Homo sapiens: one gene and its partners. The protein of the gene in region 3 binds, or shares a complex with, the protein of the main gene of each other region. Each region holds a gene or a part of one and is shown on either strand. Other genes may lie near its edges.

Region 1 (7,024 bases), on a different chromosome or scaffold from region 3:
CTGCCATTCTTTCTACCCTATTCATTCATTCACTACCTCAATCCATCACACTCCTGGGTTTTTTTTTATGCTGTTACTTTGCTCAGCATCTTCCTTATTTCAATAGTCACCAGTCACATCATATACACATTTAGTATGCCTGAATTCAAGTATGGTATATGTGCTGTCTCAAAAAACACTAGAGGGTGACAAGTAGCAGTTATGTTTGTTTGTTTTATTTATTTCACATTTTATTCTTATTACATTGGGCTGGGCAAAGAGTTGTGCACCACTGTATAGATCATGTTATTCTGTTGCTTTCATTTTTAAAAATGAAAATGAGGCCAGTAGTTTGAGAACAGCCTGGCCAACATGGCAAAACCCTGTCTCTGATAAATGCAAAAATTAGCTGGGCATGGTGGCACACACCTGTAATCTCAGCTACTTAGGAGGCTGAGGCAGGAGAATCGCTTGAACCCAGGAGGTGCAGGTTGCAGTGAGCAGAGATCGTGCCACTGCACTCTAGCCTTGGTGACAGAGCAAGACTCTGTGTCAAAAAAAAAAAAAAAAAAAAAATATATATATATATATATATATATATATATATATATATATATATATATATATATTTTAATAGAGATGGATTTTTTGCTCTATGTTGCTTGAGCTGGTCTTAAACTCCTGGGCTCAAGCAATCCTCCTGCCTCAGCCTCTGAAAGTGCTGGGGTTACAGGCATGAGCCCAGACTATTGTGTTGCTTTCAGACAGAATTGGGATTCAGCTTCTAATTGTTTCCAAGTTCAGAATCTAGATCAGAATCAGAGGATGAAGACCACTTGTGGGTCTGGGGGCTGCTGAGAGGAAACACGTATGGAGCTGACTATGGAGGGGTCATGTTTCAAGGCTGCCATCTGGGCATCCAAGGATCCTGCATGCAGCTCATGGGTAGAGGGGCCCACAGCAGCCCCTCAAAGTGAATAGGGATGGCACAGGCCCAGGGCTGGAACTCAGGAGTTGGAAGGATGACTGCATCTGCACACTTAAAAAGATGCTGTCCATCTGTATCCTGGAATCCTGTGTAGGCCCTCTCCCTGAGGACAGGAACAGGGTTGGCTCCTTGGCCTCTGTTTAGCCTCATGAGTAGTTCAGTAAAAGTCCTGCAAACTTGTCATTATCTGGAGACATTCCTGCCGGCTCCTCTTCATGCCCCTCTACTTGAAGCACTAGGCAGTTGCTTTATATTGTTCATGATTCTTCTTCAGTTATTCAAATTTGAGATAATTGCATTCTTTTAGGGAACTCTGGATCTCCTGGTCACTCCAAGGGTTGATTACTGTTCTGATGGTTTTTCTGGTTTCTTGGTTTCTTCTTCCTTCTTTATTTCCTGAGGGTTTCTAGTAATTTCAGTCTGATGTCTTACGTTCTCCATTTTTATTCCTGAGTTTTCTCCTGGAATTCTTCTCACTGCAGCCACAGGACCTAATGTTGGGTTGGCAGAGAACTAGCACTTACTCTGCCCTAGTGGGACCTAGGAGAGTCAGGAGGTACCTGAGTGTGGAAACATGCCTGCTCCTCTAGACTTCTGGAGGTCTCTTAGAAGTAGCAGTTTGAATAGTGGAGATGTTTCCCCTGCTGTACCTTCAGTGAGGGTGAGGTGGGTGTCATGGATCTGCCCATCTGTATTAGTCTGTTTTCATGCAGCTGATAAAGACATACGTGAGACTGGGAAGAAAAAGAAGTTTAATGGACTTCTGACATGGCTGGGGAGGCCTCACAATCATGGCAGAAGGCAAAGAGGAGCAAGTCACGTCTTATATGGATGGCAGCAGGCAAAGAGAGAGCTTGTGCAGGGAAACTCCTGTTTTTAAAACCATCAGATCTCATGAGACTCATTCACTATCATGAGAAAAGTGCAGGAAAGACCCACCTCTGTAATTCAATCATCTCCCACCAGGTACCTCCCATGACATATTGTGAGAGTTACAATTCAAGATGAGATTTGGGTGGGGACACAGCCAAACCATATCACCATCCCTGGATGGGTCTTGTGGCACCTGGTCTTGTGGTATTGGGGTTTTGTATTAGGCCTTTCTTGCATTGCTGTAAAGAAATACCTGAGGCTGGGTAATTTATTTAAAAAAATGGGTTTAATTGGCTTAAGGTTCTGCAGGCTGTATGGGAAGCATAGCAGTATCTGCTTCTGGGGAGGCTTCAGGAAGCTTCCAGTCATGGCAGAAGGCAAAGGGAGCAGGCATGTCACATGACAAAAGCAGGAGCAAGAGAGAGATTGAGTGAGAGCTCACTTACCACTAAGGGGATGACTTATGCCATTCATTAGGGATCCACCCCCATGATCCAAACACCTCCCACCAGGCCCCACCTCCAACACTGGGGATTACCATTCAACATGAGATTTGGGCAGGGACAAATATTCAGACTATATCAGGTCTAAAGACTTGAGCTTTTTTGGCCAGCACAGTGGCTCACGCCTGTAATCCCAGCACTTTGGGAGGCCAAGGCGAGTGGATCGCCTGAGGCCAGGAGTTCAAGACCAGCCTAGTCAACATGGTCAACCTCCATCTCTACTAAAAGTATAAAAATTAGCTGGGTATGGTGACCCGTGCCTGTAATCCCAGCTGTTTGGGTGGCTGAGGCATGAGAATTGCTTGAACCTGGGAGTTGGAGGTTGCATTGAGCCAAGATTGTGCCACTGCACTCCAGCCTGGGTGACGGAGCAAGACCCTGTCTCAAAAAAAAAAAAAAAAAAGACTTGTGCTTTTCATATAACATGGCCCCCAAAGCCCACCAGCAACTCTGTTGTTGCTTAACAGAGGAAGACAGTCTGTTCTAAAGCTGGTAGAAAAGCTGGCCAGTTGGACCCCTGAGAAACAGTATGTCTGTGTCCTGTGTTTGCCTACCTCAGAGATTTTCAAGGGCAATTTTGAAAATGTGTAATTTTTGCTATTGGAGTTAACTATATGATTTTCAGCAGCGTCACCATACCTAGCTGATCTCTTCCTGCCTTCATCTCCAGTACTGATTTAATCATCTTAATTTTTTATTTTTGAAAAGATGTTCCTTTTACATGTTTTATGTATGTGTCTGTCTATAAGTATCAACATTCAGTGAAAAGTCTCAGTTATGCCCCAGTTTTGTTTTTTGTTCCACTCTTCCAAACAGGTAACCACTTTTGTTACTGATATGTCATTCCAGAGTTTCTCTACTCAAATATTTAAAAAGACAAATTTCTTTTTTTTTAAAATTTCTTCCTTGTTTCTCATCTAAAAAGTAGCATACTAACACACAGCTTTTAAAAACTTTATACTTTTGTTTTTTTGTTTTTTTTTAAGACGGAGTCTGGCTCTGTTTCCCAGGCTGGAGTGCAGGTGTGATCTCTGCTCACTGCAACCTCCACCTCCTGGGTTCAAGCGATTCTCCTGCCTCAGCCTCCCAAGTAGCTGGGATTACAGGTGTGTGCCACCACACACAGCTAATTTTTCGTATTTTTAGTACAGACGGAGTTTCACCGTGTTAGCCAGGCTGGTCTCGATCTCCTGACTTTGTGATCAGCCTGCCTCAGCCTCCCAAAGTGCTGGGATTACAGGCGTGAGCCACCGCGCCCGGTCAAAACTTATACTGTTAAGTATAATTTTATTATACGTATATTGGAAATTTTTCCATTTCAGTAATCAGAGACTGTCCTCATTTTTCTTTTTTTTTCTTTTTTTGAGACAGGGTCTTGGGCTGTCACCCAGGCCAGAGTGCAGTGGCACAATCTCAGCTCACCACAGCCTTGATTTCCCAGGCTCAAGCGATTTTCCTCCTGCCTCAGTCCCCCAAATAGTTGGGACTACAGGCGTGCGCCACCACACCCAGCAAATTTTTGTAGTTTTTATAGAGACAGGGTTTTGCCATGTTGCTCAGGCTGGACTTGAACTCCTGGACTCAAGTGATTGCCTGCCTCAGCCTTCCAAAGTGTTGGGATTACAGGCAGGAGCCACCACACCTGGTCTCTCATTCTTTTCTAAATAACTGTCATTTTTTTTTTTTTTTTTAGCCAGTTCTCTATCAAAGGGCATTTATTTGGACTGCTTCCACATTTTTTTTTAAGCTAACTTATTCCCTGACAGACTTTTCTTCAACTCAGCATGACTTCAACTCTCCAACTACACCTGTTACCTTCAGTGTGAGTATTTGTATGTTCTTTTTAAACATCTGGGTGCCCACCCAGTGTTTATTTCCTTCACTCATTAAAATGACCTCACCAATACGTGTACATTTACATATTTATTATGGCACCTAGGAAGGACCTAATAAGCACATGGCCAGTAAATGAATAACCCCATCCCAGTTTTAATCTGCGTTTCTTAAGTATTTACATACTCTTTTTGTATCTGGAAATAAATACAAGATTCCTGTTTGTTTGCCATTTTTAGCTTTTATTTGAATGTCTTTTTTGTGTATTTCCAACAAGATCATGTGATACTAGAGAACTGGCCTCATATCCTCAAAACTGGGTGTTCTGCACATGGTGAATCTTGGGCACTGACTGTGTATAAATATCTGTGTGTTTGTCTTTGTACATATAGCTCTCAAACTGGAATTTGAGGACTGCTCTCCCCCGCCATTCCTTTCTCCAGAACTATCACTGGTTCTCTTTGAAAGAACTTCCAGGCAATCTTTCATGAGTAAATTGTACATTTCTCCCCCTTTTTAATCCCTCCGCTTTTCCCATGCGTTCATTCTTCCATTCAGTGACTCAGTGCCCAGTATGTGCCAGGCACAAGGAATATATGTAGTGAATAATGTGAGATACAGCTCTGCTTATTCATAGAATTTACATTCTTTTTTTTTTTTTTGAGACGGAGTCTCACTCTGTTGCCCAGGCTGGAGTGCAGTGGCACGATCTCGGCTCACTGCAATCTCCACTTCCCGGGTTCACGCCATTCTCCTGCCTCAGCCTCCCGAGTACCTGGGATTACAGGCGCCCGCCACCACGCCTGGCTAATTTTTTGTATTTTTAGTGGAGACGGGGTTTCACCGTGTTAGCCAGGATGGTCTTGATCTCCTGACCTCGTAATCTGCCTGCCCTGGCCTCCCAAGGTGCTGGAATTATAGGCGTGAACCACCAGGCCCAGCCCATAGAATTTACATTCTAATAGGGAATACAGATTTTAAACAAATAATTATGAAAATAATTGATGACATTTGCAAAACTTTTCTAATTCACAGTTGATTATTTCTTTTATTCTCTACCTCAGCAATATTTGGAGGCATAAATTGAAAGTCATCTCTGTGCTATTGAAATGGTGGATACACAAACTTGTTCCAAACCAGTATGTGCAAATTGATACGTAAATCAGTAAATTAGTATATAAATGAGCAAATACATTGATGTTTCAGATCAATAGCGTGATTGAAGCTAGAACCTGTTTTAATTTGTAAACCAAAAAATGTGATTGGTATAATGCTATCTTTAATTATAGTCCCTCTTGATGGTTCTTTTATCTGAAGTTCTTGGGGTTTAATACTTCTGGGTATGTCTGCTGACCCTAACTTATAGTGGGTTATTTCCTTGGTGTTAGGTTATTTTGGACTGTGAGCGCTCATCTTAGCAGACCTTATCTGAGGGACTTTGTGCAGCTGGGTCGAGGCCAAGTCTCTACAGAGGTTTTTGCATTAGCTTCCCGCCAGGTCTCCTGAGATGATCACAAGTCTGACAACATTTTTTTTTTTTTTGAGACAGTCTCTCTCTGTCGCCCAGGCTGGAGTGCAGTGGCGCAGTCTTGGCTTGCTGCAAGCTCTGCCTCCCGGGTTCACGCCATTCTCCTGCCTCAGCCTCCTGAGTAGCTGGGACTACAGGTGCCCGCCACCACGCCCGGCTAATTTTTTGTATTTTCAGTTGAGATGGGGTTTCACCATGTTAGCCAGGATGGTCTCGATCTCCTGACCTCGTGATCTCCCCGCCTCGGCCTCCCAAAGTGCTGGGATTACAGGCGTGAGCCACTGCGCCCGGCCGAGAACACTGTTTATGTTCATTTCTCTTCATGGAGTTTCACGAACCACTCAGGGAAGATAAATTGAACCCTAGATCAGTGGAAGGAGCAGCTCCCTGGTTGGTTATAAATTCTCAGGGGAGTTTTTTTTTAACCCCTCTATTTGGAACTCATAGCAAAAAAAGGCAAGCATCTATGTTTTCCCTCTGTGCTGGTAGATGGACATTTTTTTATACCATTTTCCTGTGTCTGTAACCTTTCGTGGGTTTTAGATTTGTGGTGATCTCAGTTCAGCTTCTCAACCTCAGCCTCAGATGGCTCAGGGCTTCATTTTTCTGTCCCTGCACGAGCTCTCAAACCTTCAAGCGCTCAAACTGCCTATTACTCGTCTTTAATTAAATAGGCACAGAAATTGTGAGTATCTGGAAATGAACAGCAGTTTGATATTTTAATGATATCTAAGTGGGGGATCAGTGTGCTTGTATTTCGTCATTGTTTTTCTTTTCCTTTCGGGCCTGCCCTAGGTGACAGGAGCAGCAGCTCTGACGCCAGGACAGCCGTGCATCACTCCCAGGCTGACTATTCCAGCTCTTGTTCCCTTCCCACTTTTGGGCCATAGGGGTTTTCCTTACTTCCTTGTGGACTTAGCTATAGATTTAAAAGGATGTGTGTTATATGTTACCTAGCATTCCTAGGTGTTCTGTTTTAAAAGGGTGCTTCAAGTGCTATTGTATGCCCTTGGCAGAAATAGAAATGCTCTTCTGCTTTCATGTTGACTTTTGAAATCATTTTAACATGGAATTATTTTTCCTCAAAGGACCTGGAGCAGTTGGCTAAAGAGCAAGACAAAGAATCAGAGAAACAACTTCTACTCCAGGAAGTGGAGAATCACAAAAAGCAGATGCTCAGGTAGGCAGGGCCTGCCCCCGCCAGCGGCTTCTGCTGGCTCTTCTTGTTGCCTGTGAGCCTTGCACGTGTGTTTGCCTGATGGATCTGCTTTAATGCTGACTTAATGGTGTCTTTTTTTTTTTTTTGAGAGACGGTGTCTC
Region 2 (7,594 bases), on a different chromosome or scaffold from region 3:
GGCGCAGGCTGTGCAGATCCTGGGGAGAGACTTGCTTGGACTTCTCGGGAGGGATATTTTAAGCAAGAGACTGACATTTAGTGCCTGAAACTCAGAGCAAGGAACCCAAGAAGTTGGTGTTTGACTTTGACCAAGCCCTAAATTCAGACCAGCCCTAGTAAGCAACTCAAGATTCAGACAGACCAGTACAGCCAGATGCTAGACATAGCTGTGAACAGCAAAAGCACTCTGGAATATCACAGAGTTGATTTCTAGCTGTGGTTGTAACATAGCTGAGTGGCAAATTAGTTTCTCAGCGCTTCTATTTCCTCACTTGGTAAACCCTCACCCTGTTGAGAAAGTTGAATTAACAGATTAGGAAGCTGGAAGCTGTCAAGCCCTGCCTAGAGCCCAGTGACCTAGAGGCTTCCTTCTAAACTGGACTGTTAGTAGGGAATCTGGTTGATATGAGTTTGGGGCCTAGAGAATACTTTTATACTTTTTTTTTTCTTTAAACATTAGTCAACTGTAGTAGTAAGGAGGAGAGAAAGATTAGAACAAGGAGTTTAAGCACTTAAAAAATCCCAACTCTATCCTTTCTCTGCAGCACCCTCATCACATGTGTGGATTCTGGGATTCTCAGAGTCTGGCATGACAAGGACAAGGACACATCCTCTGACCCAGTGAGGCTCCCCTGCCCTGATGGTTGGGGGAGGTGGGCTGGGGTAGGTGCCTAATGATCACGCTGGGGAAGGGAGGATTAAGGACTCTGGAACGGACTCTTATCTCCTATTCTTTACAGCTCCTGGAACTGAGAGTGGGCCCTGGGGTGTGTAGGATGCGCCAAGACCCAGCACACCCCCATGTGGTTGCCACAGGTGGGAAAGAGAATGCTTTGAAGATATGGGACCTGCAGGGCTCTGAGGAACCTGTGTTCAGGGCCAAGAACGTGAGTGACAAGAGTGTGAAGGAGCTGTTCCTGAAGTCGAGGGAGGCTGAGGCCACTGACGATGCATTAGAGACTAGATGGACTTAGGGGGCGAAGGAGGGCTGAAAACAGGGGCACATCGAGCCCCCCATAGCCCTGTCCTCCATCTGCCCACCCCACCAGGTGCGGAATGACTGGCTGGACTTGCGGGTTCCCATCTGGGACCAGGACATACAGTTTCTCCCAGGATCACAGAAGCTTGTCACCTGCACAGGGTACCACCAGGTAAGGTGTCACCTCACACCTGCCTTCTCCTGGGATAAAGCAGCCTCCTGGAGAAATGGCCCCCACGGTTTGACACAACTGCTCTTCTCACCATTCTGAGTTCAGAGGAGCAAGCGCTTCCCCGTCTGTTCCAACCCTGTCCCTGAGCCCATGACCTTCCTCTACTGTATTCTAGGGTGGAGTTTCCTGAACTATGCCTGTTTTCCTCCCACCTGGAAGAGAGGAAAGGAGAGTGGATCCCCTTCACTGTGGGAATTATAGGGTGCAGGTGTCAGAGGACATTGGGCTGGGTGTTAAGAGAACTGGGTTCTGGTCCTGATGCAGCCTCTCTGATTTGCTTTGGGACCCAGGCCTGAGCCTCCCATCTCTGGCCTCAGCTCCTCAGCTTTACAGGAAGGGCCCGAATGGGGAATCTTTATGGTTTGTCTCATTTGAGGTCTTGAGACACGGGCGGGGCTGGGTCACTGTATTTGTCCTATTTTCTTTGCTTCTGCACATTGAAGTCTGATCTTGGTCATATGCCTCTGCTCAAAACACATATGAGGGCATCCTCTTTCCTCCTTCATTCAGGCTAACCCCTGCTTGAAATTTAGCACCTACTGACTACTAGACCAACTTGCTTTTCTGTCCCTCCATTTCCCCTAGATGGGAGTATGGGGGGATGGAATGCTCACACACTTCCAACCTAGGGGACCTCTCCCCTCAGCTCTGTCCATTTATGCTGCTAAGCAGCTCTCCTGACACCCTGATGCTCAGAGAAGAGGCATACATCTAAGATGAGAAAGTTTCTGGGAGTGGATCATAAATAAGAAAGCAGTGTGCAGGGAGGGGGTGAGGATGCAGAGACGCCAGAGGGTAGGTGCAGGGTGAGGATACTTTTGTGATGCTTCAGCCTTCCTCTAGGTCCGTGTTTATGATCCAGCATCCCCCCAGCGCCGGCCAGTCCTAGAGACCACCTATGGAGAGTACCCACTAACAGCCATGACCCTCACTCCGGGAGGCAAGTGAGTGTTTAGAGGGGAAGGGGTGGGAGGGTGGGGCTTGAGAAGGGCTCCAGGAGGTTACTGCTGATCCCACTTGCCTCTGGTCTCATCCTCAGCTCAGTGATTGTGGGAAACACTCATGGGCAGCTGGCAGAAATTGACCTTCGGCAAGGTGAGTGGACTAGGGTACATTGGGGGAAAGGAAGGAGCAGGGAGAAGGGTCAGGATTCCCTCTAAGGTGGTGCAGTGGGGCCAGTGAGGCCTCATTCAGGTGCCAGATTGCCTGGGTTTAAATCCTGGTTTCCCTAAAAGCTGTATGACCTTAAACTAATTATTTCAACTCCCTGTGCCTTAGTTTCCTCACCTGCGAAATGGAAATATTAGTAGAAGCTCCAGTCTCAGGGTTTTGTTGCAGATTAAATGTTGAAATGGAAAGTGATTGGAACAGGAAACAATGAATGGTTGGTTATTGGCCAGCCAGTTATCACGGATGCTTCCCCCCTTCTCTAGGGCGTCTACTGGGCTGTCTGAAGGGGCTGGCAGGCAGTGTGCGTGGGTTGCAGTGCCACCCTTCAAAGCCTCTACTAGCCTCCTGTGGCTTGGACAGAGTCTTGAGGATACACAGGATCCAGAATCCACGGGGTCTGGAGCATAAGGTAAGTTGTCTCTCCCACCTCCAACTCATGGTCTTGTGGAGGCCCCGCCTCCTGTGCCCTCCGTTCATGTTTCTGTCTCAGCATGCCTGGCTCCTTAAGGTCCCTCATCTTTTGCAGGTTTATCTCAAGTCTCAATTGAACTGCCTCCTCTTGTCAGGCAGGGACAACTGGGAGGTGAGCAGTTGGGCCCGGGAATGTGGGAGCCAAGGGCATAGATGTGAGGACCTCCCTATGGAGAGGAAAAGGAGGCAGCTGGAATGCAGACTTGGGACTATCTGTTTACCTGCCTGGTCACTTAATTTCTCTGAGAGGCATTAACAGTTAAAATCCTGAGAGGGTTATTGCCAACAGCATGGATGGGGTTGCTTTCTAGGAGCAGGGAATAAAGGTGGTGGTACCCAGAGGGATTCTTTCTCAGCCAGGGTCTCCTTCCCTGTGGGTTTGTCCCTGTGCCCCTGACTACTTTTCTTTTTTTTTTTTTTTTTTTTTTTTTTTAAACTTCTTTTTGTGGAGATGGGGTCTCCTTATGTTGCCCAGTCTGGTCGCTAAGTCCTGGGCTCAAGCAATCCTCCTGCCTTGGTCTCCCAAAGTGCTGAGATTACAGGTGGGAGCCACCGTGCCCGGCCCCCCTGACTCCTAAGCTTTCTTCCCACTCACCAGGATGAGCCCCAAGAGCCTCAAGAACCCAACAAGGTGCCCCTAGAAGACACAGAGACAGATGAACTTTGGGCATCCTTGGAGGCAGCTGCCAAGCGGAAGCTCTCGGGTTTGGAGCAGCCCCAAGGAGCTCTCCAAACGAGACGGAGAAAGAAGAAGCGGCCTGGGTCCACCAGCCCCTGACGCCCCTGTGCCCACTTTGTAAATAAACTGCTGAACACCCACCATGACCCTGAGCCTTTTGTGATGGGAGAAAGGAATGAGGGGTAGCTTGGGGTGGGGGCTGCCTGAGCTGGGGCGACGGGATATCTGATGTCACAAAAGCCGGGCCTGGAGGCAGGCAGGCTGGCGTGGGTGGCACGGAGTCCAGGGCCACGCGGGGCCATGGGCTGCTGCCAAGACAAGGACTTTGAGATGTCTGATGAGCAGTCCAAGGAGGAAGAGTCTGAGGACGGCAGGGAAGATGAGACCACAGACACACAAAGAGGGCCCAGGGAGTGTGAGAGGGGGCTTCCCGAGGGTAGGGGTGAGCTCAGAGGCCTCGTCGTCCCCTCAGGCGCCGAAGATATCGACTTGAACTCCCCGGACCATCCGAATCACAAGTCGAACGAAAGCCTTCTGATTACCGTGCTGTGGCGGCGACTATCCACGTTCGGTCGTCGGGGCTCCTCGCGGCCAAGCAAGAGGCAACCAGACCAGATTCGGAAGCAGGAGAGTCCGATCCGAGAAGGCAACCAGGAGGAGCCGGAGAAGGGATGACCCCAGACCTGCTCTCAGTCCGCCCCAACCTCCAGAGAATAAAATTTCTAACGTATACCTGCACGACCACTCTGGGGGACTGGGCGCGGACACCACCGGGCAGCTGGTTCTTTAAGGCTCCTTCCCGGAGGCGGGCCCAGCCCCCTGAGCGCCTGCTGTAGTACTCTGGGGCGGGGTCACGGTGGCGCCTTAGCCAATGGGAGGGCGGGATCGCTCTTGCGTTTGGGTGTGGGGCGTGTCTTTCGGGTCGCTGGGCTTGAAACGCGTGGGACCGCCCCCTCGTCACTGGGGGTGGGGTTACGTGTAGGTGACGTGGCCGCTTCCAGTCTTTGGTCGGGTTTCGGCGGCTTCAGTGCTCGGGGAGGAGGCAGTGACGGCCGGTGAGATTGGAAGTGGCGGCGGCGGCAGGCGGCAGAGGGGAGGTAAGATTCGCTTTAAGAGGGGATCTGGCCGCCGTGTCAGCTCTGGGGCAGTGGTTTTACGGGGGCGACGACTGGCGGGGGGAAGGGAATCAGGGGCGAGCGGGCAAGTCCTGCCGGCCCGGCTCCGGGTGAGCGAATTCCTTGCCGTCCAATCAGGAAAGCCTCTGTTGAGAGAGACGTCGGCCTTAGCTAATGAGTGGTTGAAGTCTTCCAGAAGGCGGACCTTGGGCGGGGGGTGGGACTTCCTGTTTCAAATAAACACCCAGAGGTTTTCCCCCTCCGCCCACCGAAGTGTGTCAGTCTTTGGAGGTCCGTCACTGGCCCTCCCGGAGGGGCCGAAGGAAACCGCGGAAACGAAAGGGCTGGGTTAGGGCCCGGGGCAGTTACACGGGCCGGGCCGGAGTCTCAGGACCACGGGGTTGGCTCTGGCCCTGTCTCTGCTTCAGGGTCCCCGGCCCGCGCTCTGGCCGCCAGAGCCAAGTTGGAAGAAGAGTCTGAAGCGGGTTCGACTTGGGACAGGGGAAAAGCGGGGCCCTTTCCGCTGCTGGTCCGCCCCAGGATTTGCGAGCGTCCTGGGCGCGAAAGTCCACGAGAAGTGCAGAAGGGGCTCGGGGATTTGTTGATTGGGGTGGGGCGGGGGAGTTTGGGTAAAGAAGTTGCCTGGGGAATGACACTCTCCCCTCCACAACAGTCCGAGGTTATGCGTCTCAATGATCCCGCGGAAACGCTACGGGTCTAAGAACACGGATCAGGGTGTCTACCTGGGTCTCTCAAAGACACAGGTCCTGTCCCCTGCAACTGCTGGCAGTAGCAGCAGCGACATCGCCCCTCTGCCCCCCCCAGTGACCCTCGTCCCTCCCCCTCCCGACACCATGTCCTGCCGGGATCGGACCCAGGAGTTTCTGTCTGCCTGCAAGTCGCTGCAGACCCGTCAGGTAAGGACCTGGAGTGGAAAAGGCGAGGAGTGAGCCTTACTCAAATCTAGGAAGGACTGTGCTCCACCACTGTTAACCGAAGTAATTTTGGGGGGTACCTGATGGAACTGATAGGCTTGGATGGGGCCTGTAGGGTCTGCTATAAGCAACAGAGAAGAGGTCGGCTGGCTAACTAGGGGCAAGGACTTAGACTTTTTTTTGTGAGGAATCCTTTGGAGGGCAGGATTGCTATTCTGGAGGGAGTACTTCAGAGAGTACTTGGCTGCAATATAATTGGTGTGAATAAGGAACAAGTTCTAGGAAGAGCCTTTAGCTGAGAAACATGCACCTTGAATTTTCCAATATACTTCTACCATAAGTTTGCTCTGTAACCATGAGAAAATTAGTTAATCTAGTTACATATTAGTTTTTATCTCTGTAAGATTAAGGACATTTTCTAGATAAGTAATTTGTTGTTTTTGTTTTGTTTTGAGATCTGTTTTTCAACTCTGTCAACAGGCTGGAGTGTAGTGGTGTGATGATAGCTCACTTGCAGTCTTGAACTCCTAGACTCAAGGGATCCTCTTTCCTCAGCCTCCTGAGCAGCTGGGACTACATGGATGCACCACTCAGCTAATTTTAAAATTTTTTCGTACAGGCAGTGTCTCACTATGTTGCCCAGGTTGGTCTGGACACCACACCTGGCCCTAGATCAGTAATTTGTATCAAAATCACTTAGGGTTGGATGTGGTGGCTCATACCTGTAATTCCAGCACTTTGGGAGGCCTAGGCCAGAGGATGACTTGAGGCCAGGAGTTAGAGACCAGCAGGAGCAACAAAGCAAGACCCTGTTTCTACAGGAAAAAAAAAAAAAAAAGCTGGACGTGGTGGCATGTGCCTGTAGTCCCAGCTACTTAGAAGGCTGAGCGAGGCCCAGTCTCTTCCTCTCTCTCTTTTTTTTTTTTTTTTTTTTTTGAGAAGGAATTTTGCCTTGTCGCCCAGACTGGGGTGCAATGGTGCAATCTCGGCTCACTGCAACCTCCTCTTCCTGGGTTCAAGCGATTCTCCTGCCTTAGCCTCTCGAGTAGCTGGGATTACAGGTGCCCGTCACCACGCCCGGCTAATTTTTGTATTTTTTTTTAGTAGAGATGGGGTTTCACCATGTCAGGCTGGCTTTGAACTCCTGACCTGAGGTGATCTGCCCTCCTCAGCCTCCCAAAGTGCTGGGATTACAGGTATGAGTCACCACACCTGGCCTCTCTCTCTCCTTTTTTGGAAACATGGTCTCACTCTGTCACCAAGGCTGGAGTACAATGGTTCTATCTCATCTCACTGCAACATCTGACCTCCTGGGCTCAAGCAACCCTCCTGCCTCAGGCTCCTCAGTAGCTGGGATTATAGGCATGTGCCACCACATCTGGCTAATTTCTGTTTTGTTAGTAGAGATGGGGTTTTACCATGTTGCCCAGGCTGGTCTCGAACTTCTGGGCTCAAGTGATCCGTCTGCTTTATCTTCTCAAAGTGCTGGGATTACAGGTGTCAGCCACTGCACTCAGCTCCTCTTAAAAAAAATTTGGGAGTGCTATTTATTTATTTATTTATTTATTTATTTTTGAGATGGGAATTTCGCTCTTGTTGCCCAGGCTGTAGTGCAGTGGCACGATCTTAGCTCACTGCAACCTCCGCCTCCCGGGTTCCAGTGATTCTCCTGCCTCAGCCTCCCAAGTAGCTGGGATTACAGACATGCGCCACCATGCCTGGCTAATTTTGTATTTTGAGTGGAGACGGGGTTTCTCCATATTGGTCAGGCTGGTCTCAAACTCCCGACCTCAGGTGCTCTGCCCGCCTCAGCCTTCCAAAGTGCTGGGATTGCAAGCGTGAGCCACCGTACCCAGCCGGGAGTGTTTTTTTCAACAATCCCAGTGGGACCCGAGTAAGCAGTTTGTGTTTGTTTGTTTGTTTGTTTGTTTGTTTGTTTTTGAGACAGTCTCTCTTTGTTGCCAGGCTGGAG
Region 3 (7,024 bases):
GCCTTGTTGATACTCTGCTCTTGAATTAGACACACTCAGGCATTAGTGCCACTGCGCAGCCGCAGCCCCTGGAGCACAGACAGCAGGGACAGGCCCCTTTGCAACATAGGAGAGAGAGGAACAGAGCGGAACCTCTGCTGTCTCTAAGTAGGTAAAAGAGAGGAGAGAAAGGTGTGGTGACTATATGCACACCCCATGCTTTCTGCGAGGGGGCCAGAGGGAGGAGGCTCTGGGAGGAGGCAAGGTGTCATTTGGGGAAGTTGGTTCCCACAGAAACATGAGGATTAGGGAATAAGCATTCCCCCCGGTAGCCCAGGTTCTGTCCAGGTGGAGAAAGACCACCCTTATTGTCTCTCATCAAGTTCTCCCTCCCAAAGGTGGTAGACTGCTTAAAGCCTTTCTTTTTTACTCTTCTGCCCTCCCAGTGCAATGTGCTAGCCTTGGCCTGCTCCTAGGAACATTTTATGTGGAGTATGATCATGGAATTGAAAGAATATGTGTAGAAATACTGCCTTCAGACCTATGAGGCTTTGTTAGTTTGACATAATTAGGAAGCTGTAATTTTTTCCAGAATGTAGAGCTCAGACTTTATTGACCCATTTAATTTTTTTTTAATAATGACATTTTACTAGAGCAGAACAGCATGTAACCTAGATAGCCTGTGGCTAGATCTCTGAATGATTTTAATTAAAAATAATGTCTCCACTTCTGGTAGATGGACTTTTTCCACAATATCCTGGCAACAAAACAATCTGGGAGAAAAAACTTCCTTGGTTTCTGTTGTTCTTACTAATAGAATAACCATACTGTCAATTTTCAATTTAGAAGGTTAATGTATATATATAATGTTTCCTAAAGGAACATTACCTTTTAATTAAATAATCAGTTTTATCAAATTAACCTTTAGACCTTTTCAATTTCACTGAGCTGAGTTTCCATTAAATCAAAATATAGAGTAGGAGGATGTTAATCGAATGTTCTTGGAACTAGTCATTTCTAGGTCTGTTCTGTCTGCAGGGTACATATTCACTGAGTTGGTACCTTTCTGACTCATTTGTCCCTGACCCCGTTAGCCTCTATTTCCGATGAGAAGGTTCCTAGTAGGGATGAACCTAAGGCTTTGGCCCCTCTGCTTGCCACTCTGGCTCCTCCCCAGAGGGGAGCCATTCATCTGGTGTTGGAGGTGGGCTGGGGTTGGGGAGAGGGGATCGAGCTTGCTGGCTTAGCGCCTTTGTCTCACTGTTGGGTCTTCCCTCGGACAGAGTCCATTCTCTCATGGTTGCCATCCCAAGCCTAAGTAACTAATAGAACAAGATCCTAAGGAGCATTGGAATAAGGAACTAATTCCATGTCACTCTTCAAGTTCCACTGAGAGAGGATCATCTATTCCCTAGGAGGCTGGAGGCTGTGGGATTTCTTTTTCCAACTCTTCCTTAGAAAATATGGAAGTGGGGTAGGGGCCGTGGGATAGGGGTGACTCCAAGGGAGGAGAGGATGCTTATCTGGTGATTGGGAGTGAGAAGGACTTCGTGCTCATCTTACCCCTTTCTTTTTTAGAAGGGCCTGTCCTCAGGATGGATGTATTCCCTGTTTGTTTGTGCCTTAAGTTTCCTAGAGAAGGCTTTGGGAGGGGGATGCCTACCTGTCTTGGGGTGGGGGGAAAAATCGGTTTAGGAGGAACTTACTAGGGAGCACAGTCGTAGCTGTGTATCAAGCATATTCTCCAACTCAGGCTCATTCATTGGTTCAGTTCATTCAAAAGTATTTATTACTGATTTATTAATTGATCAGCCTATTAAAAATGCTAGGCATTGCTCTTGATGATGGGGATACAGCAGTGAACAAACAGAAGTCCTTGCCTTTGTGGAACTTACGTTTTTAGAGGGGAGAGACAGGCAAGAAAAGAAATAATTACACAAAATATATGGAATGTTAGAGTGGGGTAAGTATCTTTACGGGGAAGGAAGAAGGGAAGTGGGATAGAAAATGTCAGGGAGGGGACAGTTTATAAAGAAGGATTAGGGAAGGCCTCATTAAGAGGGCAACATGGAGTAAACACCTAAAAGAAGTAAGGGATGCATTGATGCAGCTATCTGGGGAAAGAACATTCCAGAAGGAGGAGACAACCAACACATGTAAAGGTCCTGAGGTGGGAGTGTGCCTGGAATGTTTAGGGAACACCCTCCACCCTCTGATTCAGTCATTTTGTAGTGTGAGACCCTTCAGTAGCTGCGCCATTGTTCTCAAAAGCAGAGCCTACATTCTTTATAAGCCTGGCTTATGCTGTAGCCCTGACTCCACGCTCCTTCTCCCTCTCCCTCTCCCCATCTGGCTTACGTCAGTTGGGTCTATTCCGGAGGATTTTCTACCACACACCCTTCATATGTGTTCTACTATCTATCTAGATGGTTCTCTCACCTTTTCACCTGGCCTGTTCCTCCTCACCCTTCAAGTCTCAGCTTAAATGTCACCTGATCAGGGAGGCCTTTTCTTCTCTTCCCATCCCACTCAGACTATATTATGTTCTCATTTGCTGCTGCCCTTTCCTTTGCTGTCTTTTTTTAGCCATACCATGTCTGAATATGGGAGGATGACAGACACAGAACGAGACCAGATAGACCAGGATGCCCAGATATTCATGAGGACCTGTTCAGAAGCAATTCAGCAACTACGAACAGAAGGTAAAGTGCTCTGAAAGATGCAAACAAGCAACCATGAATATAGCAAGTAGTTAAACAAGATGCATATGGTGCGGCCAGTTAAAATTCCCTCTTCTTATTTCGATTTAGGTTTTAAAACGTTAAAATCTTTTCTTTCTTGATCAATGTTTTAACCAAAGCTGTTAAAAGTACTGCAAAGGCTGTATCATTCAAGTTAAACCAATGAGAGGAGGGAGATGGAAAGGACCTCTCCAAACAGAACCAAAAATATATCTAGGGGCCAGGGGCAGTGAAGACAAATTTGTGTGTGTGTGTGTGTGTGTGTGTGTGCGTGTGTGTGTGTTCTGTGTGGCAAATTGTATGTGTGTGGGTGTGTATGTGTGTATGCACATGTGTGCCTCTGTTCTGTGTGGCATTTAGTGGGATGGGAGTTGACAGCAGCCTGGGGTACTTAAGCTCTACTTGTAATATTCAAGTAAACTTTCCTATCAAACCTTCAAGGTTAGGAGGAAGGCTCTGGAGCCAGGGCTGCTTAGGTTGCACCCCAACTCCACCCGTCCGAGCCATATAGCCCTCTGCAAATCACTTAATCTCCCTGGGCCTTGTTTTTTTGTCTATGAAATGCAGACAATTAGGGAATGTATCTCTAGGGTTGTTATGAGCATTAAGTTAAATTCCTACAGCATGCTTAGAACTGTGTCTGGCACAAGAGCGCTTATTATCTCACTTTCGTTGATGTTTAATTCTCACTGAGACAATGAGATGGCTTCCCAAGTCACGCCTCTTTCTTGATTCTTTTTTAATTTGCTTAGGCATTTACAGAGTACATTAAATAGTAAGTAGAGTTCAAAGCTGCCAGATGCTGTTGTGCTCACAACACAGACTTTTGTTGGGGAGGTTTTTATTAGAATGCTGACGGACCACTTGGAGACTCTGATGGAAGCAATAGGCATTCTTGCCAGAAAAATGTACATACACAAAATTCTATATGCAATTTCACAGAGCTCCTGAGTCCCCCACACAAATCTTGGGTTAAGCAGCCCTATAGTAAGGCAGAAATCATGCCCTCTACCCTTAAGGGCATATACATTCATTGAGAGACCTAAAAAATGCACAGGAATATTTAACAAAACCTACATTTACATATGAAACCATCTAACCTTGGGCTATTTATTGCCTCTGAACCTTAGTTTCTTCACGTGTAAAAATCAGGAAACTCGGAATTGCTATTGTAATTACTAGCAGTACATATGTAAAGTGCTAGCAGAGTACCTGCACGCAGTAGGCACTCAGTCTCTCAGTCAGTGGTCACTATCTTACCAAAACCAGTGGCACAGACTTTAGGTCTGGTAAGGCCTTTTAGCACACTTCTGTGTGGTAGTTCCCAGGAGAAAGGCATCTTTGTGGCTAGGAGTCATAGGTTTCCTGGAGACAGAAAGTTTGACTCATTGTCTAAGGGACCCTTAGAATGTGAGTGGCCAAGGGGAGAGGATGGGGCACTACAGGCTGAAAAGCAGCACAGGTTCAAGCAGGGAGGAGTGTGTGATTTCAGTTGTTTAAACATGTTCGCTGAAGGTCAGCTTGAGCATTGGATGCTGTTAACACAGATGGGGTCAGCACTCAAGAAGTGGCTGCGTCAAATACTATCCTTAAGTGTTCTGATAAACCATAAATTATTTGACTATAGATTTTCTACAGGTTTAATCTTTCACTCTTGCGAAGCCTGATACATCTTACTGTTTTAAAAATGTAGTGTCACTTGGCACAAGACTTGTTTTATAGCTGTGTTTTAAAAAATACTCTCAATAAAGAAAGTGTTGTGAGGAAGCTGATGAATTGCTCTTTAGGATAATTGAGTGCGAAGGCCTGAACATTGTCTTTTTCTGTTACAGCTCACAAGGAGATACATTCCCAGCAAGTGAAGGAGCACAGGACCGCTGTTTTGGATTTCATTGAAGATTACTTGAAAAGTATTTCATTTTCTTTTAAAGGTCAAATGTAACATTTCACAATAGATGTGATGCAGAATTTAGCTTTGCTAGCTGAAGACTGTAGTATCTCATTATATTTAATGATGGCTTTGCCTGAGAAGCTGTTTTAAGCAGTCTCTCTTCTGGTATTTTCTTCTGCAACAGGAGTATGTAAACTTTACTCAGAACAGAGAGCCATCCGAGTTAAAAGAGTGGTGGATAAGAAAAGATTGTAAGTATTGCTTTCATTGGTGTTTCTTAATTAATAATAGTACTACTAATAATAGCAGTTAAAGTTTGTAGAGCACTTACCCTATGCAATGTACCGTGTTTGAACTTCTTCGCAAAATGCCATAGCTGGCGCTACCGGGCACTCACTGTGTGCCAGGCAGCATGCCAGCCACTTTATTGGCCCACAACAAACCCCCATGAGGCAGGTACTGTTTCCTCCCTCATTTTACAAATGAGGAAGTTGAGGCTCAGGAGGCTTGGCCACTCACCCTAGATCCCACAGTCCCACAGGTAGCATAGCTGGGGTTTGAGCCTAGGCTGTTGGTCCAAAATCTGTGCTCTTGCCCATTTTGTCTCTTAACCCGATGAGGCTGGCACATCTTGAGCCATTTTACCTCAATCTCTTTGACCCCCATACCCCTTCTTGTCGTCCCTGAAAGTGTATTCCTGAGAGAAGAGCGAGGGCACAACAAGCAGGCCACCACAAGGCTGTCCTCAGGTCACCTGTGACAGACTTGCTCGATGCCACATGCTCTGAGTGCACACCTCCCTCCAACCCCACTACCTGTCCCATGCAGGCACTATTAGGAGCCCTGTCAGCAGGTAAGGACGCTGACGCTCCAGCAGGGTAAATGACTCATCCAAGGCCACAGGAAGCAGGAGGGCCAGGCTCCTGTATTTTCCATGGCGCCTGCCTGGTTTCCCCTCTGGGCTCACATGAGCATCTGGAATGCAAGAGCTGTGTCCTCACAGTCGTTCCCGCTGCAACTCAGCCAGTCTTGGAGATGGAATACATCAGTGAGCAAGTATCCAAACCTGGACCATTTCTAGACTAGCTTTAGAAAGGTTTTAGGATGTTCTTTCAGAAGATAACATCACATAACTGTTTGGGGACACATTTTCTTTTTTGTTTTTTTTTGTTTTTTTTGTTTTTGAGACAGGGTCTCACCCTGTCTCCCAGGATGGAGTGCAGTGGCACGACCTCCTGGGCTCAAACAATCCTCCCACTTTAGCCTTCCGAGTAGCTGGGATTACAGGCATGTGCTACCATGTCTGCCTATTTTTTAATTTTATTTTATAAGGGTGGGATGTCACTATGTTGCCCAGGCTGCTGTCAAACTCCTGGGCTCAGGCAATCCCCCTGCCTCCCAAAGTGCTGGACTACAGGCGTGAGCCACCATGTCTGGCCCACATTTTTTAAATTCTTACTGTGTCAGGGGTCCCCAGCACTACTCTCTGGTTCTAGGATTCACTAAGAGGTCTCATGGGACTCAACATACAGTCCTGCTCCTGGCTATGATTTGTCACACTGAAAGGATACGAAGCAAAACAGCAAAGGAAAAGGCATGTGGGACAAAAGTCCAGAGGAAACCAGGCATGAGCTTCTAAGAGTACTCTCCCAGTGGAGTCACACAGCATGTGACCTATGACAACACGTGAAGTGTTGTCTACCAGGGAAGCTCATTAGTAACTCATTGCCCAAGGATTCTGTTAGGGGCTGGTCACATAGGCACCTCACACCTGGCATCTACCGAAACTCTAGACTCCCAGGAGGAAAGCAGGTGCTCAGCACTGAACTGCATTCAAACCGCATGTTTTGCAAAACAGTTCAGGCACGGCGAGCTGTTTTTATCAATTAGGATGGCATGAACTCTGCCAAAGTCCAACTTCTCAGATGCCAGGCAAGGGTTAACCTTGCAAGCAGGCCTTTCTAAGGATAGCAGCCTCAGGCCTACTACATGAACCCTTTTCTGCACATTTGTGAAACAGATGTGAAATTGTTAATGCCAACAAATAGAAGCATTTGTGGAAGATAGTAAGCAGATCAGTCAAGTTATCTGTCAGCAACAGCTACTATTATATAATGCACTGAGAGGGTAGCTTGAGAGAAGCCATAGATTAAGTCTTTGTGCTTAGAGAGCTTAGAAGCAGGCTGGGTTGCTATTAAACATGAAAAATTAGTCAGCTTAATCAGGATATGTCATAATTAGTGAAATCGGTAGTAAGCTCAGAGGGGGAAATGGTACGATCAAGTGGCATAGTATAATGCCTAAGAGCCAGACTCTGCAACCAGACAGCCTGTGTTTGAATCCTGGCTCTGCCACTTTCAAACTGTGTGACTTTGAGCAGGTTGCTTAACTTTTCTGGGCTTTTGTTTCCTTA

What was found.
Region 1: STX18 (region 3) and BNIP1 share a complex: the UniProt entries of both Homo sapiens proteins name them as parts of the SNARE complex.
Region 2: STX18 (region 3) and STX5 share a complex: the UniProt entries of both Homo sapiens proteins name them as parts of the SNARE complex.

Annotation. Positions count from the first base shown.
Region 1 is NC_000005.10:173,147,530-173,154,553, forward strand, and holds part of BNIP1 (vesicle transport protein SEC20), read left to right. Parts: intron 1-4,036; coding exon of another isoform or gene 4,037-4,165; intron 4,166-6,792; coding exon 6,793-6,884; intron 6,885-7,024. UniProt on the Homo sapiens protein: As part of a SNARE complex may be involved in endoplasmic reticulum membranes fusion and be required for the maintenance of endoplasmic reticulum organization. Also plays a role in apoptosis.
Region 2 is NC_000011.10:62,829,029-62,836,622, reverse strand, and holds the start of STX5 (syntaxin-5), read left to right. Parts: upstream 1-4,571; 5' UTR 4,572-4,669; intron 4,670-4,967; exon of another isoform or gene 4,968-5,172; intron 5,173-5,360; 5' UTR 5,361-5,379; coding exon 5,380-5,604; intron 5,605-7,594. Other genes in the region: WDR74 (WD repeat-containing protein 74), read left to right, coding at 587-704, 782-928, 1,091-1,192, 2,096-2,196, 2,292-2,347, 2,686-2,831, 2,949-3,005, 3,492-3,671; TEX54 (testis-expressed protein 54), read left to right, coding at 3,873-4,247. UniProt on the Homo sapiens protein: Mediates endoplasmic reticulum to Golgi transport.
Region 3 is NC_000004.12:4,455,029-4,462,052, reverse strand, and holds part of STX18 (syntaxin-18), read left to right. Parts: intron 1-80; exon of another isoform or gene 81-147; intron 148-2,565; coding exon 2,566-2,681; intron 2,682-4,552; coding exon 4,553-4,630; intron 4,631-4,795; coding exon 4,796-4,862; intron 4,863-7,024. UniProt on the Homo sapiens protein: Syntaxin that may be involved in targeting and fusion of Golgi-derived retrograde transport vesicles with the ER.